Regions from separate parts of the Homo sapiens genome. Here regions 1 and 3 are each linked to region 2. The links come from fine-mapping of genetic effects on gene expression. A gene starts in region 2. Each other region holds a variant in brackets. All regions are shown on one strand. Distances are between the middles of the regions.

Region 1 (8,180 bases), 75 kb after region 2:
AAAACTCTTTATTTAACTGAAGCAAGCATCTGAAATTCAAAATCTTACAGGGGTCATAGAGGCAACATAACAAAATAGAGCTGGGGGATAGTATTTTTGCTGAATCTTGTTTGGGTTGTGTTGTTTTGAAACACATGCACTTAACCATATTGAACTCATGATTATTCTTCACTTGCATCAAGAATTATACTCACATTATCTCTCACTGCACTATCCTTGTGGTCCAGGCTTGCTTTTCCTAGTTCTGTTAGCGACATGAATGCAGAAAAATGTATTCCCATTGTTGGAAAAATAAGGGAACAGATGTCAAGGTAAGTGACACCTGATTCCCAGCCTCAGGTAGGGATAGTGGCACACTGGGGAGAGAGCATGGCTACCTCTTGGCTCAACCAATTGATGCCAGTCAATGATGTGCAGAGCTGTGGGACTGATGTTGCAGGAGCTTCTAATTTTTCAAGAGAAGGTAAAAATCTGGACCCTGAAGAAAACCTGTTAGAATTTACCCAACAACTTAAAAAAAAGTTTTAAATACTCTGTGAGTTAAACAAAATAATGGTGCCCTCTTCAGCCTGCAGCCTCTAGTTTTTGATTCTGCGAGAAGGTGGGGAGATAGTTCAATTCAGATGAGGCAGTGCAGAGGACTCTGAGAGCAGCTGCTTCAAAGGGAGTGGCAATGGAGTCTTCATTTGTAGGGCTGTTTTTCTTAAGGCAGTTTAAAGGATGTTGTGTGCAGTGTCTCACAGGGAACTGAGGAGCTACCTTAAGCTACTTACAAAGGACATTGTCAAGACTCAAACCCAGGTCTTCTGACACCAAGCCAGGGACCTCGCTTACACAGAGTTCCCAGGTATTAACAAACCTAGTGTTGTTTGTGAGATGAGAGGCTGGTGAAAACATGGGTTTGGTCTGTCTGTCCCCTGCAGGATGTGTGATCTTGGACATGCCACTTTCCTCTGAGCCATGTTTCCCCACCTATATAATGGAAACAGCAATAAAACCTATTCCTTCCAGGGTGGTTTAAGAATTACATGAGACAATGTGAGAAAATAGCTTTACTGAGAACTTGACACGAAGAAAATGTTCAAGCTTCCGTCACTGTGCGGCTCCCAGTGCCTGAATGTTGTGTGCCAGTGGTATGCGGAAATGGATCTTGCACACTGGCTGGGGTTGGGGAACCCATGCCTTCCCTTAACAAATATTTACTGGGGGCCTATTATGTTCTAGGCACAGTCCCAGGTACTCAGGAGACAGTGGTGAGTAAATGGGGGCTGATCTATGCCCAATGGGACTTAAAAATCCAGTAAGACAGGCAACCATTCATCAAATACCTCACAGAAAAGATATCACAACACAAAGATTTCCTGACAATGTGACAACATTTGTGAAGGAAAACCTAGGGTGTTTATAGAAGAGGGATCGGAGAGGTCCTGACCCCTCCTTCATATATATAATATATATATAAATAAATAAATATATATTCATAAATAAATAAATAAATAAATATTCATATATAAATAAATAAATATTCATATATATGTATATATAAATATATATAAACAAATATATTCATATATGTGTGTGTATATATATATATATATACACACACACACACACACACACACACACACACATTCTGGGGTAAGATATATATTTACATTCTGGGGAAGTGACTCCTACATTGAGACCTGAAGAATGAGGATCAACAGACTGGACACAGAAATAGGAGCCTCATTTTGTCCACGTTGTTTGTGATGTCTTGAAGCCTCTAAGTGCTGTGCCAAGCAGGTAGCTGACTGAATAGAGAGCTCCGCAGAGAGGTGCTGAGCTGGAGATGGAAATGTGGGAGTCATCATCACACAGGTGGGCCCTAACCTATGAGACTGGCTGAGCTCGCCTAAGGAGTGAAGAGCTGGAAGGAAGAATCTCAGACAAAAGAAAAAGAGACCTGGTCCCTCCTCCTGGGGGAGCTTGTCATGCAGTTGCAAAGTGGGGACCCATACTTGGAACATGGCTAGAATCAGGCTGAAAATTGGCTCTTTCCCCCCATTTCTCCTACTCTCAAACTATTACCTAGTCTTTAGGGTCCAGTTCCAATGCCTTTTACCCAGTCACCCCATGAATAGAGCCTGCTTTTCTGGCAGTATGTGGTTTGTTCCTCCTCATCTAAGTGCACACATAGTGCATGCATTGTAACTACTCCTACTTCCAAACAGGTCTTCTTGGTCCTCTTTGAAAATTCAGAAAACAAAATGTCATGAATGTAATGAAAAGGATCTTTCTCTGGTGGGTAAAAATCTTAGAGTGACTTTAGATGAAATTTCCACCATTCTGGAAAACCCATCCTCATGGTCTGGGCCTGGAGATTTGGAGGGTCGCAGATGAGAAAATGTTACAGCTGGAATCTAGAGAATTTCTGGATAAGAACAACCTCTGCTTTTATTCTTGAAGAGACTGATTGAGGCTCAGAAGTTTTAGGAGGCTTTCCCAAAGATATATGACTGCATCAGGGTCTAGGCCACAGTATACCCTGGATATTTTGCTGAAAACGAAAAGCCCCAGAATTTTTCTTATGATTGGCCTGGTTCTTCCAAATTAAACTAGGTGGGAGAAGTTACTAATAAAGAATTCTGGTTAGTTGGCAAGCAATGATTAATATGCCAATGTTCCTCAGTTGATCGTGAGTGTGAATTCACTTTGTTTGATCGCGTAAGTTCCTTGAAGCCCTTCACTTGCACCTTATTTTCTCATAGTACCTCAAGACTTGCCAGGCACATAGTAGGCACTCAGTAAAGAACTGCTGAATTAAATGATGCTTGCACCCACATGCACATCTCATCCTCCAAATTCTTCCCTAATGGACCGTGGTGACATGCTTTAATTAAAAGACCGCTATTAAAAATGGAGCCCTGATGAGTAAACATGGTAATATGTGGTGGAGGGAATGATTCACTAGCTTCCAGCCACCAAAGTTTAATTAATCCACTGTAATACCATTTAATGTTATTGGATACTCACCACAGGGGAGAAGCTGGGCCTCTGCAGGGAATGTAAAGAAAGATAAGGACACTCAGGTTTCTAGGATTCTCATTGGCTGAAGCCCAGAGAGGAACATTTCTCCTTCAACTGCTTCCTTGGTCTAATAACTACTCATTGGGTACTTTGGGTTCAATATTTGCTATTTCTGCAAAGTCTGGCTTTGAATGCACCATTGGCACCACACTCTACCTATAGAACCTGCTTTGTTTTCTTCTTTCTTCATCCACTAGTCTGTCATTATTTCCATCCTTCCATCTGTTATATCCACCCATCTATCCATCCAGTCAGCTTGGAGTACCTTTCTTTTGTGCCAGGCACTGTTTAAAGGTAAGGTCCTAGACGATCTGGTTGTCCCCTTCTTCAGTTCCTACCACCTTCTTTTTCACTCCGCTGAGTGTCACACCAGCCTTCCTGTTATTCCCTAGGGTCTTTGCATTGACATTCTCTTTGATTGAATTCCATTCCACCAGATTCTTACATGGCTTACTCCGGTATTTCATTCAGGCTTTTGCTCAAATGTCCCCAGGAGTACTGCACTTCCATTATGCTATCCCCTTTACCCTGCTTTCTTTTTCTTTGAGCCACTTATCACCACTTGAAATTATAGCATTTATTTATGTGTTTATTGTCTAGCTCTACTTTTAAGATGCAAGTTCCTTGAAGACAAGGATTTTCTTTATCTTTGATGCTATATTCCTAGCACCTTAAAGATAGTCCAGCACAGAGTAAGTGCTCAGTAAGTATTTGTTGAATGACAGAATGATAATGGCCTTAATTTTGCCCTTGAATGCTTTACAGTATATTTAGGGTGACAGAAATAATATTTAAGAAGATAAGTAAAATAAGGTGGCCAGATGAATGGTTTCTGACCATCAGAAGACAAGATGATCATGTTTACTTGGAGGGGGGATTTCTTGGAAGGCTGGGAGCACTTAGATAAGGGTGATGTAGTAGATAACATGCCTGCCCCACCCACATCCCCCCATACCACCT[C/T]CAGGTTCACGTGCATCTGCCATAGACAGTGACTGTGCCCACTAGCGCTTCCCACTCACCTGCTCAGGGTTTTGGATCTCTGGGTTTTTCTGGTACTATGGGAGTTTGCTCAGCTTAGGTACAGGGTGACCCAGAGGGGTTGGAAATTAAAGTCCCCAGAGGTCAGTAAATAAATATTTCTGCTTCCCTGTCCAGCACCGGGACAACTCAGAGGCATATTCTCTGCAGTCACTCCTGGGGGGAGTGAGTCCAAGTGTCCAAAGCAGTAACCCCCTCATACATGTGCCCTGTATTGGCTTTTCTCCCTTCCCTGTCTCACTTCTCCACCTCACTTGGTGTCTTAGGCTCACCTCTTACATAAACCACCAGCACCTACGATCTTGTCTCAGGGTCTGCCTTCAGGAAACCCAAACTAAGACAGTCAGTGTGGGGAAAGGCTATTCCAGATACCATGAAAAAAGTCAGTAACCTGTAGATTTCCCTGGGGCCCTGACTGTCCAGCAGTCTGAGCCCCTGCACCTTGCTGGTGCCATTGACCACTTACTCAAGTGAGGGGGAGCCTTTGATCCCTGGTGGCAAGGGAGGCAGCAGAGTGCAGGGAAAGGGTGGGGGTCTAGGAGTCAAGAGTCCTGGGTTCTCTCTGGGCTCTGCCACTAATATGCTGTTTACCCAAGGGGCAAGTCCCCTCTCTGGTTCTTAGTCTTGTCATTGGCCCAGGGAGGTGTTTGTGCTGTCTCATCCCTAAGCTTCCATGTTGCTCTGAGATGCCACACCAGCTCCATGGTTTGCTTTTCTTCACTTCTCTTCCCTCCCACTCCAATCATCTGTATTTGCCTCTTGGTCTATTCCTGCAAAGTCCCCATGCTGGGCCTAGTTTTGGAGGTCTGGATGGTAAAATACCCAGCGTTAGTTTTCTCTAGTAAGGAAAATTGTTTTCTCTACGCCTGAGGTGTCATTATTGTTAATAATGATGACATCAGTCTACCTCATCAGGACCTGTGAGTGCTTAACTAAGAAAAATGCTTTTGTCATTGTTAGTAAATATGAAGTGTGCCTACTCAATCAGAATGACACCTCCAGACGGGTGAGTCCATTCCTTTCCCCACACCCCAGCTACTCATTTGCAAATGAGCCCTTCTTCAAATGACAGTGTTTATTTTTTATTGATGTTTCAGCACTTTGACAAATACATTTTTCCATGAAGAGAAACATAATTAACTTAAGTCATTTATATTAATCACAAGGGGGGAAAGTCATGCAAAACAGGGGTAATTTTGTACTGAACAAGGCACGATATCTAATGAATATAGATGATGCTGATTTATGTGTTTATCCAAAAAGCATCAGTGGGGGAAAAAAAAGCCAACACCAAACCTCATCCCACTCCCACAAAAAAAACAACAAAGAAATAGCCTTCAAGGTCTGTTTAATGAGGCTTCCTCGTTTGGTGGCATCCTGCCCACAGATTGAAAAATAAAATGACTTTTCAAGTGTTTATGGAGCTTGAAAAGCCAGAGAAACTCCTTCCCAGCGTGGGTGCCCTCTGCATGAATTCAGGGAAACTGGAATTACTTATTTCAGCAAATTCAGGCTGATGAGGCCCAGTCTACACAGGTGGGCTGTCACAGACTCCTTCCCATGGAAGGTTCAGGAAGGATTCTGAGGTCTGTCATTGCAGGATGTGGTCAACAGAGTTCTGGCCACAGTAGCTCAGATTCCCCAGCTGTGTCGACCAATGGAGGTGGATCCACTTGATGGAAGGTTGGAATGATTCACCACTGTGAGTATGAGTGGTAACACTTCCTGTTTGTGTAGTTCTCTCTACCCTACACTTGTGAGTAAACTAATTGGCTGGGGCTCACAGAAACAAAGAAGAAAGACTCAGGCAAGTGGGAGGAGACAAGGAAGCACCCTAGGAACATCATGAAGTCACAGAATGTTCGAGCCAGAAGCCCATACCTGGCACAAAACTCACCTCCTCATTTTCCCACTGAGGAAACTAAAAACCAGAGAATGAGAACAGTTGGCATTTGTTGAGCATTCGCTTTGTGTCGGGCCCTGTTCTAAGTGTTTTTTGTGTTTTAATCCTCACAATAATTTTATGAGATAGGTACTATCATTATACCCATTTTACAGACAAGGAAACCAAGGCTCAGAGAAAGAAGGGTACTTTCGCAAGGAAGGTCCCACAATAGGAGACTGGCTGGACTGAACCAGACTTTGGTCTTTCCAAACCCTTCATCCAGAGCGGAGGGAAGCTGGTCATTTGTATGAATGAAACACCTGTGGGAGCTTTTATGCCAGACTTTGGAAACTTTTTAAGAGCTCATACTGTCTCTTTTTGTTTTATGTGGTCTGTTCCCTTTGCTGCCACTAGCCATAAACATCCCTACAAAATCTCAACAGACTGCAAGCTTGCCTCAGGGACACAGAGGTGATGGTTTAATGAACTACGAGATGATACTCCAGGGGATCTGGGTTGGGATTATTAGGCGGAGGGAGTGAATGTGTGTCGGCAGAGGACCTAGTGCCCAAGGGTCCCAGAAGAACAGAGAGGCCTGCCCTGGAGCTGGTCTGGGACCTTGCAGGGCCTTGCAATAGCAGCCACTGCTCATTTTTTCTGGTGGAAAAATTGAGGCAGGGCAACCTGTTCCTGTCCACTCAGGTTAGTGGTGAGCCCTGCCTACCTGAATCCTTTGCCTAGTCACGATTTTTCCTCCACTCCAGGCTCTCAAATATTAGACAGTAGTCCTGAGGGGCATTGAACTCTGGAGCCAGAGTGTCTGGATTTGATTCCTGCCTCTGCCACTTAATGTGTGAACTTGGAAGAGGCCTCCAACCTCTCTAGGCTCAGTTTCCTGTACCTCCACCACCGGATGGCTAAGGATTAAAGAGCTCGATGTATGCTAAGGACTTAGAACAGCAGAGCAGCATATGTTAGCATCAGCCATTGTCACTATTATTATTGGAAACAACCCAAAGCCCGTGAGCACTCACCTCCTCATCAGTGACCACATACAAATCTTAAGCAAACACCAGATTTGGGCAGGTCTAGGACACTGGGGAGGGCAGGCAGGTGTCTGGTTCAGGGGCAGGCTGCAGCCACATCTGCCTGCATGCACACTGAGCCTCCTGCCCACTGACCAGGCTGCAATTTGTCTCTTGCCTGGTCTGCAGCTCCCTGCACATGCCAGGCCAAGAGCGGGCGCCGGTGCCAAGGCCCCATCTATCCTCCACTGCCTGGATGGTGGGGCTGGAGAGCGCATCTGTCACTGTCTCCGGTGGCATGGATGACTGGCATGTCATCTTTGACAAATGTCTGTGCTGGCGAGCTCTGTGCGGCTGTGGGTACTTACAGATGCCGAAAACTCACAAACACAGAAGGGCTGCTCCGCACGCTGGCAAACATAAATGAGGACTAGGGCAGCTATGGATTGGAAGGCGGGGGAAAGGAGGCAGCAGAGTGCAGGACTTGGACTGGGAAGACCTGGGCTCTGCCTCTCACCATATCCTCTCTCTGCACCAGGGTTTCATTGCCCATAAAGTGGCCATAAAGGTCTCTGCCCTGTCTTCAGTGATATCATAGGAATCAGTCATAATTTTCATCATACTATTGGCAATGATAGCTGCAAACCCTTATCAAACACCTGCCTTGGGTCAGGCACTTACACATACACACACTTCCTCACCAAATTCCCACAAGCACATTTTACAGATGAGGAAATGGAGATTCAGGAAAGCAACTTGTCTGGGGTCACATAGCAAGTGTCGGAGCCATCTTAGGACACATAGGACACACCTTAGGTGCATACTGTAGGTCAGGGGTCAACAAGTTTTATCTATAAAGGGTCAGAAAGTTGATGTTTTATGCTTTGCAGGCCTATGATCTCTTGCATCTACTCACTGCTGCCCTTGTTTTTTGCAAATCAGTCAATAAATAAATGAATGTGGGTGTATTTCAATGCAATGTTATTTATAAAAACAGTTGGTCAGCTAGATTTAGCTCTGAATCTCTCAGGCCATAGTTTGCTGACCCCTGGTCTAGGCTTCCAAATCAAAGGAGGTGATTATGAGACAGGGCTGTTTACACTTCTGACAGGCAGTATCTGGTATGGTTCACGTCATGGACTTGGGAGCCAGCCTGCTTGTGT
Region 2 (8,180 bases):
CTCTCCCTGGCCCAGCTCCAGTCCTGTACCTCTGAGCTCTCTCCAACCCCAGGCCACACCTTGCCCATCTCCTGGCTTCCATGGACTTCTTTTCTCCACAGCACTCCTCTGGCACTTGGAGGACACTGCCCAGCACTGGTAACTGCTTCTAAGTGAATAGGCCTTCCTCCAAGTGCTTCTGAGTCCTGGAGATCAGGTCCCGGGTGATGAGCTTTTCTGCAGTGGGCAGCGCTTAGCCAGGTATGTAGCTGGCCCTCACCGAGAACTGTTCTACCTAAGCTGATCTACCAACCTGGAAAGTTCACAATCTGAAGGCAGGAGCCAGAAATTCCTGGGGACTCTTTTCTAGTCACGAATGCGGCAGCACATCTGTCCCAGGCTTATCTCACCATATCAGACTGGCACACTCATGGGGCCCACCCAGGCTGATCTCCTGCCCAAATTCAAACTTGGCCTGTTGACACCGTGGATTCCTTTTTCTGAACTTTTAGCTCTCTTCTACCCCTGGAGCCATGGGGTATGAGCTTCCTGCTCCATCTTTCCATTCCCAGAGTGTCAGGATGTAAGCACAAGCATCCAGGTTTCTTGTGGCCTGACTTTTCAAGGAAACAACTGCCTGGTCTTTGATTAAAAAGCTGCCAAGGTGGCATGTTGCTTTGCATGTCATTTGCATGTGGGACAATGTACAGACCCTCCTCCAGCCAAGGCCCCACCAAGGCCCCACAAATATCATTCTTCTCATTTGTTCATGATATTTCAGCCTCCCCCCATGATTAACCAGATTTGAAGGAGAGAAAACAATCTGATTATTTTCAGTATTCTGGACTGACTATCTAATCCATCCTTTTTTTTTTTTTCTTTTCATACAGAGTTTCACTCTTGTTGTCCAGGCTGGAGTGCAGTGGTGCAATCTCGGCTCACTGCAACCTCTGCCTCCCTAGTTCAAGTGATTCTCCTGTCTCAGCCTCCCTAGTAGCTGGGATTACAGGCGTGCGCCACCATGCCCGGCTAATTTTGTATTTTTAGTAGAGATGGGGTTTTGCCATGTTGGTCAGGCTGGTCTCGAACTCCTGACCTCAGGTGATCCACCCGCCTTGGCCTCCCAAAGTGCTGGGATTACAGGCATGAGCCACTGTGCCTGGCCCTAATCCATCCTTTTCTGTCAAGGGTCAGGGACACTGGTCCTGGAGGTTCTGGGACAGAGCTGAGCAGCATGCCCACCTGTGCATATTTCTACTTGTCTTTCTGTGCTCCTGACTGTCCGTTTGCTCATCTTCTGCCTTCCTGTTTTTCTACATTTCTGTCCAGTGGTGGAGGCCCCCTCCCTGCCCCTCCCTGCCCCCATCCTCTTTTCTCCTGACACCTGCCTCTCCCAGTGCCTCCTGGTTCCTAGGCCTGTGCTCCCCTTACCTCTGGCAGCACACCTCCCAGGCGGGGGGCCTGATGACATATGATGTGTGGAAGGCAGAGGAGGGTGGGGCTGGGAGGAGGGTGGGGCTGGGAGGAGGGTGGAGTGGTGCTCCCTGCTGATCTGCCTTTCTCAGATGAGAAGGGTGGTGACACTGGCTGGGAAGTCCAAGTTGCTGTTTCATGGCCCCAAAGAGTTCCTCTCAGGAGGAGCCCCTCTGGTCTGCCAGACCCTCCTTGGTGCCTGGCCTCTGGAGGCTACCCCTTGATGGAATGTTTGAGGGCTTGTGGTGAGGGTTTGACACTGGCCCTCCTGTGACAGCTCAGCCCCCAGTTATAATGCTGTTGATGCCTGTGGTCTTTGCATCCCATGAACCAGCTCTGTGGCCATGGGAGTGAGTGGTAGGAGCCTTCACATTTCTTCAGAGCCTCCTTATAATTGGGATTGTCCCCAAGAGTGGCAAGAACTAGCTTGGGAAGTGAGTTCATAATCCATGAACACAGCCCCTGGTTATAGCCTCCTGGTTGGCATGACCTTCCTGGCTTAGAACCCTAGCTTGACAGATCTTTCACAAACCCCTAGGACTTTATGACTCAGAGGAGAAGGCAGCTGACAAGTGGAGGTGGGTGGGGAGTCAAGGAGGAGTGACCTGGCGCTTCCTGGCAGAAAGTCCTGCCTCCCAGCCGCCCTAAAGAGGGGTAGGGGAGAGTGTCCCTGTCTGTTGGCAAAGTCCAGCCTCCTGTGTGACTCAGACAGAGCTTTGTTCAACAAAGACAAACACCCCTACCCCACTCCTTTCATTCCCTATCAAAGTTCTGAGCACCCCTTCCTGGCTTGTCTTTAGGCATGAGGTCTGCTTCCCAGGTTGCCCGCTCTCTACCATCTCTGCACTTTGGGGTACTGGGCTCCCCTGGGAGGTTTATTCCACCCTCTCACCTCCACCAGGGAAGGAAGCAGAGGGGAGGGCATTGCAGTCAGAGACAAGAGGCTAGAGAATTATTAACTGAGACAAAAGCAGAGGAAGTTACTTATTTTCTATGGGAGATGATAACTAGGGGCCTGGGGGGGCGTTCACCATGCCTCCTCAACTGCAGGAGGCCAGACCCTGGTGACAACGGTTACCATCTATTGACCACCCATTCTGTGGTGGGCATTTGACATTTATTAGCTCAATAATGACAATTATTATCTCACACAAGGTAGATATTCTTAACTGCATTTGACAGACAAGGGAATTGAGGTTCAGAGGAGTTAAGTAGCTTGCCCAATATTACATACCCAACGTGTGGCTCACCTGGGCTCAGTGTTGGCCAGTTGGAGCCAAAATGCATCCTTTTCCCTCTCAACTGCTTCACTCATTCATTCAAGACATGTTTATTGAACACCTTCTATCTATCAGGCTGTACCAGGAGCTGAGGAGACAGCCGAAAACATGGGAAAAGTTCCACAAGGAGTTTTCATTCTTGTGGTGCCACCGCTCCTAGGCAGAGTTTTAAGAACTCAGAATGGCAAATGGCCCCAAAGTTCAGTTGTCTCCCAACCGGCAGTGTCTCTGCCAACTTTGGGTGGGGGAAGTAGAAAGCACCTTGTGTAAGGAAAAATATGGGTACATCTCAGGTCCACCAGCAACTGGTGAGTCATTAACCGTCTCAGTGGCTCCACTGTCTTCTCTGTGTGGGGAGCGGGTGGAACTAGATGCTCTCTAAGCTCCTTGGACCGGTTGCATTGGCATCAGCTGGGAGCTTCTTTGAGCTGCAGAATCTCAGGCCCCATACTAGACCTACAGAATCAGAGCCTGCATTTTAACAAGATCTCCCAGGTGACTGTTGTGCACATTATAGTTTAAGAAACTCAGATGAAGGTTCCCTCCTCCTCCTATCTGCTATTTTAATAATAGCCTCTGGCTGGGGACAGCCACTCACCAGCAGAGGGCACTGTAAGGAGGGGTTTCAAGGTGCAGCACCTACACCCAGGTTGTCTCCCTGCCTCCCTCCTTCCTTCCAGACCTAGACTGGAAAGTTCACTGACTTCTGGGATCCTCAGCTAATCCCTTACCTGGGCTGGACTTTGCCAATAGACAGGGACACTCTCCCTCACCCCTCTTTAGACAGCTGGGAGGCAGGGCTCTGCCAGGAAATGCCAGGCCACTCCTGCCTGGATTCCCCGCCCACCTCCACTTGTCTGCTGGCCTGCCGACTGAATCTGGCTGACCCTTGTTTCTCGGAGAAGGAACTGGACCAGCCAGCAGCCTCTAAGAGCTCCTAGACGGTAAGTTGAGCACCCCCTTGGGGCAGCTGGAGAGGGGATGGGCATTGTGATGGGGTTACCTGGAGCTTCGGGGGAGGAGCCAGGCCAGCTTAGCCTGCCTGCTGGAGTGTAGGGACCCTCTGCTGGAGGAGGGGAGGAAAATGGGACTTGGCCAATGGGTATGAGGACCACTGGGATGATTCTGTGTCCTGCGGAAATGTCTACTATACTAACAAATGCCATTCATGACTTGGGTTTGGACCATCCATCCCAGTACTTGTTATGTTCTGCAGTAACTGGACATCTATCAGGTGTTGGGGAGGCACAGGGAGAACCAGTGAGGTGGAGGAAAGGTTGAGAGTTTTCTTAAAGGGTATGAGCAGAACTTTGCAGCAGGAGTTTGGATCTTTGTGCTGGAGGATGCAACTGCCTAGGGACAGGTGATGGCAGCATTCTAAAGGACTCTCGTTTCGGGGACCCGCTACCCAGGGTGATCTGGGGTCTGGAGCAAGACAGACTGGAGGAGTGGGTAATGAGGAGTCCAGGCATGGGGTTGGGATGCCCCAAGTCACACTCGAATGGCTGCAGTGCTATAGTTGCCATTCAGCAAGACTCCGGACCTTTCCCCATTCTGGAGCCAGAGGGAGGATGCAGTGAGGGCCAGGGCAGCCTGGAAGAGCAGTCACCCTGGGAGAGGCCCAGTGGGGCTTTGGGAGTGGTGCATGCCAACTTCTCCAGGGTCGGAGGTTGAGCCAGGGGACTCTACTGCACCACCCAGTGAGGTGCACCTCACTGGGGATCTGGACTCTGGTCTTTGGTGGCCCCAGGAAGGTTACTGCTGTGTAAGCGAGCTGGGGCCCCTCCTTTCATCCCTTTAGCAATTCCATCCCCTGCCACTGGTACCTTGGTAGGTGGGGGTGTGGTGTAGTGGGGTGGGTATTACCACATAACTGAGGATGTAAATTTAGGTCCTTCTATTTGTCTTTACTTCATTTTTGCTTCTTTCTCTTCCAACTTTATTTCTTCTAGAGAAGGAAAGGAAGATACTTGGGGAAAAGAAGGGGTGGAGAGAGAAAGGGGGTATCTCTGGAAGTCCTTGTTCGTCTTTGCTCCTCCTTCCTGCCTGTCTTCAGTTGTTTAGTAATTCCCTATCCATCTTCACTGTGGGGAGAAAGCTCGGATTCCTTATCTGTGAAATGGAGATAAAAATAACACCTCGCTCCTAAGGCTGCTGTGAGGATGAGATGAGACAAGCCATGGAGAGTGCTTTAACACAGTGGCATTGAGTAAAGCTCTGCGAATGTTAGCTATTGTTATTACAGTTGGAATTATAATTATTACTAATGTGAAAGAACCAAAAGAAATGATGGGACATCAACGGTAGCTTGCTGCTCCAACCCCCTTCCCATCAGCTTTGGGACACTGCCAATTCACTGATTCACCTGTGTGCCCTCCAGGATGCCTGGTTGAAAAAGGCTGGTGCATTGTCTGCTGGGTTGGCTCTTTAGGCAAAGAGAACAATGCCAACCCCCGCTTCTTATTCACACTTTCAGTGAGGACATGGGAGAAACAGGTACTGCCCCAGTCTTCAATCCTGAGGATACAGTGGAGGTTCTGCCCTGGTCTAAGAGGCACTAGGAAGGGGCTTCAGTTTTCATGGGTCCTGAGGTTGGAAGGAAGAAGGTGGGCCAAGCCTCAGTTCCAGGTGGGTAGTGCAAGTGAAGGGCGTGGGGAGGACTGGATACTGGAAGCTCTTCCAGTGCAGCCTCTAGTGAGTCAACCAGAGGGGCCTCCCAGGGCTCTGAAGGAGGACGTTGTGCCTCACAGAACTCAGCTACCAAGCCAATGAATTCCATTCCTGCAGAAGCTCCTTGAGAGCGGAATAAGACGTCATCTTTGGCAGGATTGAACTTCCCACAGTGTCCGATACACAGCCGGTGCTTAGAAAATGTTCATTTGAGTGGGAAAATCACACATGACAGCACATAATCAAGAGTGACTCAGTATGGTGGGATGGCTGTGGAGAGAGATTTCGCGAGCTGGAGGCTGTCAAAGGCCGGTGCACCAGCGGGAGGCACTATTGAATGGGAGGATCCACGTAGGGAGAGGAAACAAGTGGGGAGAGCAAGTGAGTGGAGAAACAGAAAACAGCATGAGCAAAAGCCAGAGGCTAGAATTAAGCAGGTGTGGGGAGCCTGGGCAGGCTACAGGGCAGGCGTGTTGGAAATTGTAGGGGCTGGAAGAGGGGAAGTAGGAGGAGGCGGAGGTGGGTTCTGGAGGGCCTCAGGAAGAGCTACTGGGAAGTCTCAGCCTGTGGCCTGGCTGGGTAGCCAGGTGAGCAGGAGGTGAGTGTATGCTTTTGCCCTGCCTCATTCCAGCTTCACTGTAGGGCTGCATCTTTGTGTTTTGTCTTCTTCATTTTTTTTTTTTTTTGCTTCCACTTTTAGCTTTTGTTGTTCTTGTTGTATGTTGCCTATCCCTGTGAGCTACCTTCAGGCCTTTCTGGCAGAAGGAGGGGCATAAAGAAACACATACATTTGGACAGTGCTTTCTCATCTACAAATACTTTTCACATGACCTTATGCCATCCTCACCATTACACAAAGAGGCACTTTTTCCCCACTTTTAATAGCTTCAGAAAAGAATTACAAAGTTAATACAAACTACATGCTTGATGTGAAAAATTCAAAGTACAGAGAAAAGGATTTAAAAAAATACAAAGTTTTTATTCACACCTTCCACCTTCTCAATTTGTTGTGACTCATGGGAATAGTTTGGGGGTGTGTCCTTCCAGACCTGCACAGTCTAAGACCGGATTCATTAGTACACGTGGCTACTGGGCACTTGAAATACAGCCAGTCCCAAGTGAGCTGTTCTGTTCATATAAATTACACATGGATTTCAAAGACTGGGTATGAAGGAAGAAAGTAAAAATATCTCATAATTTTATATCGATTACCTGTTGAAATAACATTTTGAATATATTGGGTTAAATAAAATGTATTAATTTCTCCTGTTCTTTTTAATGTGGCCATCAGGAAATTTAAAATTACATGTGTAGTTCACATTACATTTTTATTGTACACCACTGCTCCAGACCTTTCTCTATACCTTTACATTTCCATATATGCACCCATAAATATGTATCTATTTATATGCAGTTTTGTTTTTCACATTAATGAGCTCAGAATATTTTATCTCTCTGCGACTTGCTTTTTCCACTTATAGATTTTTTTGTATCAGCACTTGTAGATCAAGGTAGATATTTGGACAGATGAGGAAACTGAGGTACATTAAGCAGTATTGAGGCAGGAGGTGGGATTTGATTCCAGGCCAGATAGAAAACTGGCTGAAACAGGGAAAAGGCACCAAAAGCACCTCTCCATAAGACATGCCCACCAGTGCCATGACAGTTTACCACTGCCATGGCGATGCCTGGAAGTTACTGCCCCTTTCCATGGCAGTGACCCGAAGCTACCACTCCTTTTTCTAGAAATTTCTGAATAACCCACCCCTTACTGCATGTAATTAAAAGTGGACATAAATATGATGGCAGAAATGCCCCAGAGCTGCTACCCTGGGCACACTGCCTAGGGTTAGCTCTGCTCTGTAAGGAGCATACCTCTGCTGCTGCTATACTCTGCCACTTTAGTGAAAGTTGCTGTCTGACACCACTGGCTCACCCTTGAATTCTTGCCTAGGTGAAGCCACAAACCCTCCCAAACTAAGCCCCAATTTTGGGGCTCTCCTGCCTTACATCAATATGATAAGTTTACCCAGCCACAGTGACCAAGGTGACATTTGAACTCATGTTCTCTAACTGTAAACCCAAGCTCACTCTGCTTCAGAACAGTTTACCTTGATGTATTAGGTCACGGGGAGCCAGGGTAGGTTCTCGAGTAAGAGAGACAGGTTAAAAGAATTGGTGTGACTAAAGTGTGCAGTGTGCGCTGGAATGAAGACAACTTGCAGCTATGTGTAAGCCAAGCCTTGACCTCCACAACTTAAAAGGGCTTACCCTGACACTGACCCCTTCTTCCCCACCAGGCCTTTGGCTTTGGCTGGCACAGGGGTGAAGGAGAGCCAGCGGCATTGAGTAACCAGGCGAATGTGCCCCCAGGAGAGTTCATTCCAACCCTCCCAGTTCCTACTGCTGGTGGGGGTCCCAGTGGCAAGTGTCCTCCTTCTGGCCCAATGCCTTCGATGGCACTGCCCTAGAAGGCTGCTGGGGGCCTGCTGGACACTGAATGGTCAAGAGGAACCAGTGTCCCAGCCTACCCCCCAACTAGAAAATGAGGTCTCAAGGCAGCACCTGCCAGCCACACTGCCAGAGATGGTTGCCTTCTACCAGGAGCTACACACACCCACTCAAGGCCAGACCATGGTCCGCCAGTTGATGCACAAACTGTTGGTGTTTTCGGCTCGAGAGGTGGATCACCGCGGCGGTTGCCTGATGCTCCAGGATACAGGCATCTCCTTGCTCATCCCACCAGGTAACAGCTCCTGGCTCTCATCTCCGCATACA
Region 3 (8,180 bases), 32 kb before region 2:
AGGGAATGCACTAGATGATTCACATGAGTAAAAATAATTTTCAGAGTCCTAGGACAAGTCTCCTCTTCATCCCCAAAGAACTCAGCCACTATCACGGGGCAGAACCCATAAACAAGTCAGAAACTCGTTTTTTCAATCTTAGGAAAAAATATAGCTCTAGATCCCTTCTACTTGAACCTCCATACAAAATAATAACTGTTTCCAAAATATTCCTTAGCAAGATATACAAGTATTTTACCAACTGGGCTTTCCCCCCTAAACTATCACAACTACTGCCCACTTCCCTATCCCATCTTCCTGCCTCCAACAGTGTAATTTGATTCCTCTGCACATGCTTTTCTTCTCTTCGAGCAAGCTCTTCCATCTTTCCTGTGGAAGAATTACCATCATTCTTCAAGGCCAGTCAAAAGTGCGGTGGTGATAAGCCTTTCACGGAGGCTAGCTCACGCATGGATACTTCACAGCAACTGAACTTGGCCCCTTTATAGCACTAACCGTTAGGTATTAACTACCTGTTCACCTGTCAATTTCCATCAGGTAGGCACAGTTCTTATTGACCTCTACGTACTCCCTCCCTAACACACGGATTATACCTGGCATATACTAACTGCTGGATAATTGGTTGCCAACAGCAACCTCTCACCCTAAGGAAAACCCCACAACACTGTTAGTTTCTAAACATCTGCTGAGAAAACGTTAACACAGGACTTGAAAGTGTATCAGAAAAACATAAACCAAGAGATGAGTGGACTGGGTCAAGCCTGACACAAAGTAACATAGAAAGGCGAAGGCAAAAACAAAGGGAAAAAAAACCCCCAAAACTGTACTATATTCCCAAGGGAGGGAGATTTCACAAAATGAGCAGTGGATAAGATTAGTAATATGAACAGCAAGTTGTGCAGCCTCCGGAAAGAATGCGCAAGGGTATCAATCTTCTAAGAGTGAGGTTCCAGGCACCGAATGGACTGGTCTTACAGCCCGGACAAGAAACGGAGACCGCTTGGTTGGGCTCCAAGACGGAGGTGTGCGGTCCTGCCACTGCGAACGGGGCGGGGAAGAGAGGAAATGACGAGCCAAAAGGGGTGGTAACGGCGCCGGGCCGGAGACCCGGGCGGAGCGGGCTGGGAGGAGGGGCGCGGCGGAGCAGGGGGAGTGGGCGAACTAACGGCCCCCTCTCCCCACCAGGGAGACAGCGGGGGCGGGCCCATAGGGCTCCGAGGCGTGGGCGGGCCAGCCCCGTTGCCAGCCGCACACGGGACCCCGCGGCCGCGGCGCGCACCCTCCCCAGGCCTCCCTCCCGACCTAGAGGGGCTGCAGATAAGACAGACCCGGCTCGCTGGGAGCGGGGAGCGGGGGGCGCGGGCCCCGGGGAGGCTTCCTGTCCCAAGGGCCGGAGAGTGGAGAGTGCAAGGGCAGGTTTAAGTTTGCGGCCAGAACGACCAGGAGGAAATCGCCGAGGCCCAGGGCGCGCATGTGTCCCCTAGTGTAGGGCCATTCGTGGCCCCAGGCCTGGGGCCTGAGAACCTGGGCCTGAGTCGGGGAACAGGGACGCATTCCCAACTGGCCCTGGCACCCTGCGAGGGTCGGAGCCCCGAGGTGCCTGCTCCCCGAGGCGCCATCCCCGCGCGGGGCGGCCCCTGCAGGCCTCGGCCGGGAGTGCCCCGAGGCGCTCGCAGGCCCCGGGCCGGGGCCGCTGGCCGCCCGGCTCGGCTAGGCTCAGCTCGACTCCCCGGGCTCGACGGGCGCCTGGGCCTCTCCTGAGTGGTCAGCGAGACCCGCCAATCGGGGCGCTGGGGCCGGCTCTGGGCCGCTGGATATTGGCTCCTCACACTCACCGTGCCTCGCTCCCCCGGTTCGCTGCCCGCGCTGATTGGCTCCAGTACCGGACTCCGAAACCCAATCAGAGGCTCCAGCCGCCGCTGCCGCCGCCACTGCCGCTGCCTAGCAAAATGGCGAACCCGAACAAAGGGGAATCGGGCCTCCCTCCAACCGCCTCCGCGCAGGCGCCTCTGAGGCCACGCCCACTAACTCCAGTTCAGGGATCGCCCCACCCCTTCGGAGGAGCAACGCGCAGGCGTTCCCTGAAGCCACGCCCACCTTCCCGCTTTGACACCACCCCCAGTGAAAGGAATACGCAGGCGCTTTCCAGACGCGCCAGACCCTTCAACTCAAAACGCTGCCTTGAGCTTAGTACTACGCAGGCGCTAACTAGCCCCTTTGCCAGCTGCCCACCCCTTTCCAAGTGGCCACTAGGACACACCCCTGCGGCTAATGCGCAAGCGCCACTTTTCCCGACTCGTGGGGCAGTTTCGTTACGCATGCGCGGGCGGCGGCGGGAAACCACGGAATTTACTGCCGGAAGTTCGGCGGCCTTCGCCAAAGAGTGTGGGCTCGGCTAGCAAGCTAGAGGGGCTCGTTTCCGCCCCGCTACCGGGCGGGGGCGGCCATCTTAGATGCGTGCAATTAAGGGCTTTGGCGGGATTGGCTCCGCGTTTGGGCTGGTCCGCTGCTCCCCACCTACCAGGGTCGGATCCGGAGCCCTTCCCCGCGGGGCGGGGACCTCCAAACAACCGACTCCTTTCCAGGTGAAGGGTGACTTGGGTACGTTGGGGCTTTGAGCGAGCCTCCCCGCACCCTCCCATAGGACCCCAGGACAGACTGCGTCCTCGCTGACCCGCCCTAGGGTAGGAGACAGAGAATGGGAGGCTTCAATAGACTCTTTCCTTCTCCCACGCACCCCCCAAAAAAGTGGGGGGTGAACGTTCCTTGAGAGGCCGCCTTCCTTTCCCCACGCCTGGGGCTCAGCACGCCAGTACCCTGTACACTCTGTGGTTGCGGCTTAACGGGACTGTGGCCAAGTCCCTTCTGTTTTCTTCTAAGCCAGACCCACTGGGGAAATACTTTTGCGTCGTGCAGAGAAAAGGAGACCGTCCTAAATCGGCCTTGCTCCGGAGTGGCCCTGGAGAAAGGAGGAGGCGTGTCTTAGGGATGGGCTTTGCTTCCGCTGACGGAGCGGGGCGCTCCAGGAAAGCACGAAATGAGAGCGGGTCGAGACAGCCTCCGAACCTAAGCGTTCTTCCTCTTTGCCCCAGAAGGGTTTTGTATTACGTCCCAGGGGCCGAACAAACTCACATTCATCGATAAACGTTGGGGAAAAAAGCCTATTAAGTGGTTGTACAGGGCAATCAGAATATTATATACTAAGGCTGCCTAAGCATTTTTACTTCCTTTTCCCTTCTCATAGCTGAAGAAACACTTAAATTCTGGAAATAGCGACTCAGTATCATGGCCAGCAGCCTTAATGAAGATCCAGAAGGAAGCAGAGTGCGTAACAACTATTGACTTATTGGTGAACTGAAATTCGTAATAATGGAGGTCAAAAGCATAAACACTTTTTAATTAAATTAATGATTGCATTATCTTTTTTTCTCTCTAGCTGATTTACTTTAAAAAGGCTCAAAATTCTAGGCAGGGATCATCCATTACTTTCCTTTTACACATGCTGTAATTGGTTTGGCTTTAAATCAGATTGGAGGAAGGGGTGCCGGGAGAGGTAGTCGTGGGGGACACAAAATACAGAAAAATAGCTTAGTATTTTACTGTATCTAATAAAACATTGTCTTTTCCTTTGCACATTTTTTAGATCACTTATGTGAAAGGAGACCTTTTTGCATGCCCGAAAACAGACTCTTTAGCCCACTGTATCAGTGAGGATTGTCGCATGGGCGCTGGGATAGCTGTCCTCTTTAAGAAGAAATTTGGAGGGGTGCAAGAACTTTTAAATCAACGTGAGTTTTGGAAACCACTTACCTGGTTTGCCCTGGCTAGAGCACCTTTTAATCTGTTACACTTTAATAAAATATGCGTGTAAAGAGGGGATTCCTAAGAACCAAATGTTTTTAAGATTTTCCTCCCCAAGAATGGCCTCTAGTTTAGACGTTTACCATATCAAAACCCAACTCCTGTGAAGGTTTTTAATCTCTTCCTCTTGTATCATGAAACTTTCTTGACGATATTACTGTACTTCTCTGAAACTTGAAATAACTCTGAGATGCTTAGTCTATAGGTTGGCATTCAAGATCCTTTACTTACCAATATTCTGCTTTCTCTTCAAAGAGGAATTTAGAAACCTCTTCTTCCTTACAGACCCCTCCCATCACTTTCTACGGGCCACTTTAAACCAGAAATGTGCACTAGAATCCTATGTAAAGCTTCTGCAACAGTTTCTCCGACCACATTCCAGGCTTAACAGCATCAGTGTCCACAGTGATTCTTAGCCTTAGACAAAAGCAATTCTTACTGCTTTGTATTATAGTTATTTGGAATGATGATATCTTCTCTGGATTGAAAACTCTGTAATAATTAATTCCTTTTTTATATATCTGTATTCCTCATAATGCCTTATACAGCTCTTTGTATGTAAAAAGATAATTATTGAGTAAATACACATTTGGCAAGTAAAAAACTACACACTATAAAACAATTTCAAGGCAATAGAGAAAGTTTGTGGACAAATGAGGATATATTTAAAAGTAGTAGTGGTACAAAAGATGGGTTGTGAGGAAACATGACTGTAAGAAAGCTGTTAAGTTAAGGAATATAGTATTTGGGAATGCTGATAAAAAGCAAAGTGTTTGTGGGAGACAATAGGTCTTCCCTATTCCCTTCTTCAGTGTTGAAAATTCTAGTTCTGAGGTAAACTCAGATCTGTAAACATTTTAAAATCTTTAGAGATCAGTGTTTGGTTTTCTTTTTCATTTCTACTATTAAATAACTTTTTCTTAGAAAAGAAATCTGGAGAAGTGGCTGTTCTGAAGAGAGATGGG[C/T]GATATATATATTACTTGGTAAGATGGGGCCAATTCCTTTTTTTTTCAGGGCCAGTTCTTAATACATTTTAAGGATTTGTGAACAGATGGGCTGCACTGCATTTGTGTTGATCATGATGTTCTATTCTAGACAACTAAGAATGTCAAAAAGCTTCCTATCTTATGACAACTCCAGTCCAGTGATGGCGGCTACTTGGAGCACTGGGTTAGAAAGAAATGTGAGGCTGCATCCCAGCTCTGTGGGAAAGTCGTGTATCATGTACCATAGGCCTGTTCTAAGACTTGCAAAAGTTAGGAATGCCTGCCATACTATATTTCCTAGGCAGAGTGAGATAAAAACAATAATGTCTCAAGAGACAGATTTCCCAAAGGAGCTTTTCTCTTATTCCATGTCAAATAGCACACTGATAGCAAGGGGGTGAATAAAAACAAAAAATAATAAGTGCAGTCCCAAATAATACTTAGCTCCTCTCCTAACTACTGCCTGAATGTGGGGTTCTTCAACAGTCCAGGATGGCATTTGGTCCCTGAAAGGGTGTGGCTTCCTTAGTGGTGGTGGTGGGTAGCTTACAGCTAACCCACTACAAGCCTGATCTGGATGACAAACTGAGTGGGGAGATGTCCTAGCCCCTTTGAATTCTGTCCTTAAAGCTTATGTGGCTTCCAGTGGTTTTACTTTGGGACCCTACCAGTTTTTTCTGTTGTTTTATGTAGAGAGACAAAAAGCAAGCAAGCACAGTTTCTAAATAAGTAGAGGCTTTTAGCAGGGAATTTTCAGGTGGTATGCTTTCTTCCCTGTTAGAGATATGCAGCTTATCTCTTGGAAGTGGCACAGAGACTTCACCTACCTTGCTTAAAAATATTGACAATAGGCATCATCTGCTAATCTCATGGGTTTCCTAGGAAAAGGAAAGATTGCTACGTGGCAGAGTCTGGGTTTCTCAGCCTCTATTTAGTGGATTTTCTTGAAGGTCTCCCATAACAGTGTGGAAAGGGCAATATGACATTTGTCATCCTTGCTCTAGACTAATTCTATAAAAATGTGCTTACTCTTTTAATTATTGGGATGTTGGGGGAATGTGATGACTTTTCTTTGGCTATCATTTTGGGATGATGAAAGTTTGAATCCTTTGTGTTCAGATTACAAAGAAAAGGGCTTCGCACAAGCCAACTTATGAAAACTTACAGAAGAGTTTAGAGGCAATGAAGTCTCATTGTCTGAAGAATGGAGTCACTGACCTCTCCATGCCCAGGCAAGGAAATCCATGGTCCTAAATGGAGATTTAATTGATTGGTGGGGTTTACTATCTTACCCAAAGACAAACAACTTAAAAGCTTAACCCAAAATATAGATTTAAAGGTGGACAAAAGTCAAAATTTTGTAAAACCACCAGTGAACCAGTTGTCTGGCTTTAGACTAAGGCACAGCCATTTTCTAGCTTGAGTTGAATGAATCAGGACAATTACCTTGAAATATACATCTGCCTCAGCCTGCTTAGCAGAGAGCGACCATTGTCATTCAGCTACATTTGTTGAATTCTCAGCACCCTCTGCTTGAAGCTTGGCCTTTATTCCTAAAGCAATGTAAGCTAAAGAATCAAGACTGAGCAATGGTGGTTTTCCTCTTGGACCACTTCCCATCTCCCAAACCTATTACTTTGCGTCAAGAAAGTTGTAAATTATCATTCCCTTTTATACTGCACACTTGTTTTGGTCAGTATGGGTAATAGCCAGAGGATCTGTCCCTGATGTAACTTCTTAGACTTTAGCTATTGGGAATTTAGGGAATGACATTGAGGGTTCAGTAGTCCCTTTGCTTTCTTTTCAGGAAATGGGCCTCACCTCTTTTCTTCCTGTCACCCTGGTAGTTTTGAGTCAATGCTGAGCATACATGCAGTTTTATCTTGCGCCCCACATTACTTTGCATATGGCCTCAAATGTCCCTTATTTTACACTGGTCTTTGATATATTTATGGTGTACATACATATCAGAAACTTTTTTTTTAATCACAATTCCTTATGGACTTAATTATCACATTATGACATGAAATTACCAATTTTAGGTCTCTTTTTTCCCTAGGCGTGTTGAGGATCACTAGAGTAACATCTTGGAAGGTGCCAAGTAGTAGAGTTTTATGGACTGAGTTTATTCTTACCAGGGTGTTGCAAAGACCTTACTCCTGGATTGCAACTATCTTACCATTTCCCAGCATTCCCTCTTGACTTTCTTTTTTGCAGATCCTGTACCTCATTCCTCTTCTCCTTACTTTCGTTAACATTCTGTTACCATAAGTGCATTTTTAAAATACCAACCTTTCACCATCCATCCACAGCCAATTTTAGTCAGTAGTCATAGAGGGATAATGAGTCTCTAATGTCATGACAGTTACACATTTCTAAATGTAGCATGAAATAGTTGGAAAGTAGTATCTTATTAGGCAAACAGAAGTGATAGTTTTTGGATGTTAGAGCTGTCTAGGAATGGTCTTCGGTGACTCACAACAAGAATTGACTTCCAAACTCCTACCATGGTTGCCCATAAGGGTGTCAGACTAGATTATTTGTTTTTATGCTTTGAGTGGATATAGCTTAAAAGAGAGGAGCAGTTTCCTAGATACTTTCGTTACCATCAATGGAGATATTTTGTCTTTTTCAGGATTGGATGTGGTCTTGATCGTCTGCAATGGGAAAATGTATCTGCGATGATCGAGGAGGTATTTGAGGCAACAGACATCAAAATTACTGTGTACACACTCTGAACCAGTGAACATTTTGGATGTTTCCGTGTTCTCCTGTGTCATCTCTACTGGGCCATAGGACCGGGCAAACCTACCTTAAAATAGGCAGAGGAAAGTTTCATGAGAAGTAGTGTGTTTAACAAGACAGACTTTGGTTGCTGTATTCAAGTATTTGGATTATGACTGTGGAGGAGGGCTTGCTTAAGATATGTGGTTGTGTTTTTTTGTGGAAAAGTAAGGAGTTAGGTGGCTTGATAATAGGCAGGGAAACCAGATTGTCGGGACTATGACCTTTTTCTCCAGTATGCTACCTGATTTGTTTGGCTGGCCACTAGGTGGCAGCATTGGTTCTACTTCTCTGCTTTTTAAGAGAAATTTCAGGAAGGATGATCATTCCAGTTAGTTTGGCATTTTTTGTCGTTTGTGCACATAACTTGGTGTTATCCTTATGTCATCAGATTCCTCCTAGGGGAGAGTTTTTGTTTTAATTACAAAATTAAATTCTACATTGTTACCAAGAAATTTGTGGTGATAAAAATGGAAAAATAAAAATTTGGGGAGTTAGTGAGGTTCTGTGCTTATGTCTATTTGTTCTGGACATGGGTAATGGAGGGTT

What was found.
Region 1: its variant is fine-mapped to the expression of UNC5CL in whole blood (INTERVAL, PIP 0.98).
Region 3: its variant is fine-mapped to the expression of UNC5CL in whole blood (TOPMed, PIP above 0.99).

The regions. Positions count from the first base shown.
Region 1 is chr6:40,960,061-40,968,240 of GRCh38, reverse strand. The region is part of intron 1 of LOC101929555 (a long non-coding RNA gene); the gene reads left to right. Among named protein-coding and RNA genes, the nearest start is that of UNC5CL, 75 kb to the left of the region's middle. The variant C/T (reference allele first, on the strand shown) is at 4,030.
Region 2 is chr6:41,034,658-41,042,837 of GRCh38, reverse strand. UNC5CL (unc-5 family C-terminal like) reads left to right here and starts at 3,617. Exons shown (of 9, transcript NM_173561.3): 1 at 3,617-3,676; 2 at 7,703-8,148. The coding sequence starts at 7,764. It overlaps TSPO2 (translocator protein 2), which reads right to left and starts at 371. Exons shown (of 4, transcript NM_001010873.3): 1 at 60-371.
Region 3 is chr6:41,066,740-41,074,919 of GRCh38, reverse strand. It overlaps OARD1 (O-acyl-ADP-ribose deacylase 1), which reads left to right and starts at 2,564. Exons shown (of 6, transcript NM_001329686.2): 1 at 2,564-2,684; 2 at 3,245-3,324; 3 at 3,644-3,788; 4 at 4,786-4,844; 5 at 5,967-6,079; 6 at 7,483-8,180. The coding sequence starts at 3,286. The coding sequence ends at 7,585. It overlaps NFYA (nuclear transcription factor Y subunit alpha), which reads right to left and starts at 1,946. Exons shown (of 10, transcript NM_002505.5): 1 at 1,836-1,946. RefSeq lists silencers at 1,056-1,215, 1,246-1,875 and enhancers at 2,256-2,305, 2,336-2,545. The variant C/T (reference allele first, on the strand shown) is at 4,827.